Linked DNA regions of Homo sapiens: region 2 is linked to region 1. The links come from fine-mapping of genetic effects on gene expression. A gene starts in region 1. The other region holds a variant in brackets. All regions are shown on one strand. Distances are from middle to middle. Region 1 holds the start of PPP4R2 (protein phosphatase 4 regulatory subunit 2). Region 2 overlaps PPP4R2 (protein phosphatase 4 regulatory subunit 2).

Evidence for each region.
Region 2: its variant is fine-mapped to the expression of PPP4R2 in monocytes after LPS (Quach 2016, PIP 0.91).

The regions. Positions count from the first base shown.
Region 1 is chr3:72,995,464-72,998,382 of GRCh38, forward strand. It overlaps PPP4R2 (protein phosphatase 4 regulatory subunit 2), which reads left to right and starts at 1,348. Exons shown (of 9, transcript NM_174907.4): 1 at 1,348-1,608; 2 at 2,614-2,695. The coding sequence starts at 1,575. LOC124909395 (a long non-coding RNA gene) reads right to left here and starts at 1,728. Exons shown (of 2, transcript XR_007095961.1): 1 at 1,644-1,728. RefSeq lists enhancers at 973-1,022, 2,283-2,332 and a silencer at 1,203-1,832.
Region 2 is chr3:73,064,558-73,067,476 of GRCh38, forward strand. PPP4R2 (protein phosphatase 4 regulatory subunit 2) reads left to right here. Exons shown (of 9, transcript NM_174907.4): 8 at 295-584; 9 at 840-2,919. The coding sequence ends at 1,165. Among named protein-coding and RNA genes, the nearest start is that of EBLN2, 4.4 kb to the left of the region's middle. The variant A/AT (reference allele first, on the strand shown) is at 1,422.

The DNA of each region.
Region 1 (2,919 bases):
CAGATGATTTGGGTTCTGGGTTCTAGTTCTGTCTCCCCAGACTTGCTGTCTGTGACACAGCTTTCCCATTTGTAAAATGTCAGGGCTGCAGAGGACTTCTGAGGTTTCCGCCCTCTCCTACCTCCTGGGAGATTATGTCATGTAATAATGCTAACAGTGGTAATAAAAACCCAGCCACGTTGAGTGTTCCAGGTTTCACGCACTGTGCCAAATGTTTCACATTTGCCATTTCACTCAATCCTCGTGGCCGTTTTACAACCCTCATTTTATAAATAAGAACCCTGAAGCTGCCTGAGTTTAGGTAACTACTTCAGGGCCACACAAGGAGTAAGTAGTTGAGTTGGGATTTGAATATTGATTCCAAACCTTGAGCTCTTAATGACTTTGCTGTATACATTACTTCTTGCCACAGGTGGGCCAGTGACGAACGAACGTTGGGTTAAGCAGGGAGGTATTCTTGTTAGGATTATTAGCAATGCTTAGTGTATGTATGTATTGTTAATTTTATTATTATTTTTTTGAAACAGTCTCGCTTTGTCGCCTAGGCTGGAGGCAGTGGCGCGATATCGGCTCACTGCAACCTCCGCCTCCTGGATTCAAGCGATTCTCGTGCCTCAGCCTCCCGAGTAACTGGGATTACAGGCACGAGCGACCACGCCCGACTACATTTTGTATTTTTAGTAGAGACGGGGTTTCGCCATGTTGGCCAGGTTGGTCTTCAACTCCTGACTTCAGGTGCTCCGCCCGCCCCAGCCTCCCAAAGTGCTGGGATTACAGGCTTGAGTCACCGCGCCCGGCCTGTATTTATTTTTATATAGAGAAGGGCGAGGGAGCGGGGTCATTTTGTTACCCAGACTGGTCTCGAACTCCTGGGCTCAAGCGATCCTCTCGCCTCGGCCTCCCTCCCAAAGTGTTGGGATCACCGGCCTGAGCCCCCTGCCCGGCCTCGCTCTACGTTTTTTAGGCGCATTCTGAACGTGAAGTGTATACACTGAATTCTCACAGCAACTGCATAGGGCATCAGTACCAGTGCCCTTACTGTACAGATGGGGAAAATGAGGCTCAGACAGGCGAAGTAAGTAGCTTAAGTTCACACAGAGAGGAAATGGCAGGGATTCAAAGCCTAGGAGTCCGCCTGCAACCCTCTCGCCTGACCGTCCAGTCTTCAGCTCCGCGGAGCCTGGGCCTGGGGCTGGGGCTGGGGCTGAGGCTCTGGAAGCCGCCGGGACGCAGACGCCACTGGGCCCCAGCGTCACACCTCGGCCGCGCACGCGCTCTCGGGTTCCGGGCCGGAGCGCGCGGCGGGAGCGAGGACGGCGGCAGGGAGCGTGCGCGCGGTGACGTACCGGGCGCCATGTTGGAGGGTTGGTGGTAGCGGCTTGGGGAGGTGCTCGCTCTGTCGGTCTTGCTCTCTCGCACGCTTCCCCCGGCTCCCTTCGTTTCCCCCCCCCGGTCGCCTGCGTGCCGGAGTGTGTGCGAGGGAGGGGGAGGGCGTCGGGGGGGTGGGGGGAGGCGTTCCGGTCCCCAAGAGACCCGCGGAGGGAGGCGGAGGCTGTGAGGGACTCCGGGAAGCCATGGACGTCGAGAGGCTCCAGGAGGCGCTGAAAGGTGGGGGTAGCTGCCCCCTCTCCATTCCCCCTCACCTTCTCCGGCTCGCTCTTCTCTCCTTTCAGGGCGGATGGTTCCGAGGACCGGGGCCGGGCGCGGCGTGGGGAGAGTGCTTCCCGGGCTCCCATCCCCCTCCACCTCCCCAGGGGCGGGGAGCCCTGTGGGCAGCTCTCTCCCGCCCCGCTCTGGCTTTGTGTCGGCCGCCGGCGTCTGGGCTGGGGGAGGGGAGCCGGGGAAACTCTTGCGGGGGCCCCAGTCTTTCTCCCACCCGTTCAGGGGACGAGTGGCGGACCCGCAGACCCCTCCCTCCCAGATATCCTCTTTTCTCCACCAGGCTACCCGTACGCTAGGCGTTGGGGTGGGAGAAAAAGTAAACGGTTGGTGGGGGCGGGGGTAGGGGGTAGCATCGCAACTTTTAAGTTGTCTCAGTATGCCTTTTTCAGGGCTTTTGAAGTCATCTTTCCGCGCCCTAATTTCGAGGTGGTTGCCTTCACTGTTCTTGATTGCACGCCTTCCACGCAACAGGCTTGAGAACAGTGGCTTACAAACTTCGAGTAGAGAGATTTCAGCGTTTTGAGAATTATTCTTTGACATTCAGAATCATTTGGGGACGGCAACTTGGGGTAGTTGGTGCTTCTTAGAAAGGCAGATTTATGGACTTAGATGAACAATTGGTGGGAGTCGGGGCCTGGGGATTTTTATTTTCACTGGATTCCCAGCTTAATATAATGCTGGTGTTCCCCCGGACCACACTTCGAGAAGCACTGCGTTAAAAATGGTTTGTGAAGTTGAGTGCCCCCTTTAGGAGGATTCTTGTTATCTGTAAAGAGGGTGACATGTTGGAAGTAGAACTTGGAGGATTGAGGTGGTAATTTGGTTGAGAGGCCTTATTTTTTTAATTTTGTATTTAATTGATTTTTAATAAGGTAAAGGACTAGGAGGAAAGTTTGTTTTTAGAGCGCTTTTGAGAAAACTGATAACGTTTTTTTTTCTTCCTTCATCTAGATTTTGAGAAGAGGGGGAAAAAGGAAGTTTGTCCTGTCCTGGATCAGTTTCTTTGTCATGTAGCCAAGACTGGAGAAACAATGTGAGTTGAAAACATGCATTTGTCGTTATAGACCAGTGCATTATTAAGAATTGCTCAGGAAAGGGAAAAAAGTATATTTTGGGATAATTAAATAATTCATTCTAAATTGTAGAAGTCCTGGTCATTTAAATAATTTATATATTTACATTTAAAGAACGTATACGCTTACTTACTTTATACATGGTCTGTAACGGATTTTAAAAACCTGTGTATGTTAAAATTTT
Region 2 (2,919 bases), 69 kb after region 1:
GACTTAAGAGAGTATGTCCGTATGGAAGACTTGCGGGTTTATTGTAGGAGAATATTTAACTTACTGGAGAATTGCACAGAAAGGTCATATAGCTTTTCTGAGTCCTACTGGGAATTATTCATCAAACAGTTTAGTTTACCTTGAAATTATTCTCTTGTGTTTTTCTTTGTTCAGGTGTTATAATTTAACTTTGACACTGAAATACAATTTAAAACATTATTTAACCTTAAAAATGGGGATGTAGAAGATGGGGAAAATAATCTTATTAATGACACTTTAAAAAAACATTTACAGTGACTCTTCGACCTCTGAATCAGAAGTTTCCTCAGTGAGCCCTTTGAAAAATAAACATCCAGATGAAGATGCTGTGGAAGCTGAGGGGCATGAGGTAAAAAGACTCAGGTTTGACAAAGAAGGTGAAGTCAGAGAAACAGCCAGTCAAACGACTTCCAGCGAAATTTCTTCAGTTATGGTAGGAGAAACAGAAGCATCATCTTCATCTCAGGATAAAGACAAAGATAGCCGTTGTACCCGGCAGCACTGTACAGAAGAGGATGAAGAAGAGGATGAAGAGGAAGAAGAAGGTATTTAGAGACCATCTGTAAAAGGGTGGAGTAAGGAGATCCTCAAATTCTTGTACTTCATTTTTTTCGTGAAAGAATTTTACGTAATGGAACTCCTTATAATGCTGATGTTGGGCTTTTCTCCCACCTGTATGTAGTTGCTGCTGAATTTCAGGGGATGTGATTTGAACTATAGAATATCAGAATTCATGAAACTTAACTGTGGAGGTATTTTGAAAATACAATTTAACTACAACAACATTTGCTTATTTTTAGAGTCTTTTATGACATCAAGAGAAATGATCCCAGAAAGAAAAAATCAAGAAAAAGAATCTGATGATGCCTTAACTGTGAATGAAGAGACTTCTGAGGAAAATAATCAAATGGAGGAATCTGATGTGTCTCAAGCTGAGAAAGATTTGCTACATTCTGAAGGTAGTGAAAACGAAGGCCCTGTAAGTAGTAGTTCTTCTGACTGCCGTGAAACAGAAGAATTAGTAGGATCCAATTCCAGTAAAACTGGAGAGATTCTTTCAGAATCATCCATGGAAAATGATGACGAAGCCACAGAAGTCACCGATGAACCAATGGAACAAGACTAACTATTTAGAAACATTTAGATGCAGTATTTTACATACAGTTCTGGTTTTAACACTGTATAAAACTTTTGTGTAATAAAATGGACCTTTAGTTTTACAAGAGAAGCAGGTTGTAAAATAAAGTACTTTATGGATAATTCCTGAAAGAGTTGTACATGTAAGAACTGTGAATATCAGCTCCTCTGGGTCCTGCTTACCTTACCGCTGACTTTTCTTTCTTTCTTTTTTTGGTCTGGGCAAATCAGTGGTTTGTGTATAG[A/AT]TTTTTTTTTTTTTTTAATTTAGGATTGAAGTTTTTAAACTGGAAAGTAATTACAATTTTGAAAAGTTTTTTGAGATTATCACATTTAGTTTATACATATGCAAGAAGCTTTTTGTCTTGTCTCTTTCTGATAGCTCTAGCAGTTTTCATATTTTGGTCATAGTTTCAACATTTTAACATGTGAATTATAGGGTTTCATGCTGGTTTCCAGATTTTATTGTTTGGCTACGTACAATGGAACTTTAAGTCATATATACATACATATATATATATATATATATATAATTCTAAGGGGGGAAATGTTATATTTTTCTGTTTCTATAAGAGATGAATACAGTGGATACTTTTTCTATTGGTAATGATTGAGTTCACCTCTTTCAGAAGACATTTTCTTTCTCTTCTGAGTAATTGAAATAAAATCTGGCCCTTGTGAAACCCTGGAAATCTTAAGTCTGTTGAAATACCAGGTTAAACACATTCCAAGAGATCTGTTCAAACTCAAATTCTTTTGTATACTTCTGAGGTGCCTGAGAAAAAGACTTCATTATTTATGAGAAAATATGCTTTATCTTGGAAATTGTGTTCAAATGTTAGCTTACTATTTTGTAGAATGAATGTTTATGAAGCTGATATGAGACCATCTCAGAAGAACCAAGTAGGTTCCTTGACCTTTTGCTTGCTTTTCTGAACATTGTGAATATTACACATGTCTTTCTAAATTATTCTAGGGTATGCAAATGTCAATGGTATGAAACACCACTGTACTGGAAGAATTAATATATTACTTTAGTATGTACCTGAGCTAAATGACTGAAGCTTTAGGGGTGCATAGAAACCACCATAATTTGTATGACATTTTGAAGTGAATTAAATATTTTTGAACATGCTTCTTCGACAGCCAGTGTTATATTTTTCAGATCAACACAAAGCACAATGATTACTCGAAATTCAGTATTTTCAAATTTACATATTTAAAGTCATGCAAGCTGTAACTTCCCTGTCAAAATTACTGGCTGCCAAATTTATACCTGTTTCTTCAGCTGTACCTTTTGATATTTAAAGTTTTTAAATTTCTGTAAAGTAGATTTTGTAGAATGTAATGTGTTCACTGCCTTTGTGAAGCGGTATATAATTGTATAATTTCTGTGTGTAAACTGAATGCTTGGGCTTTCAATACAGTATTCATATAAAGCAATAAATATTAATGTTATGAAATATTTGACTACATTTTTATCAAAATATGAAAGAATCCCCCCTTTTTTAGTTTCAGATACCTGAACTACACAGATGAGCTTCTAAAACTGATGCAAACAGTTTCTGACACTGTATAATATGCTTTTGGGTGATTTGGGGGGCAACCACAAGTTTTGCGTTTTGACTACTTAAATCATCATGGCTATAAATACCAAAACGATTTGGATCCATTTATGTTTGTAGGATAATATACTACTGACTGACTTGACTGTCAGGTTCACAACAGCTAGATGATATATTTATG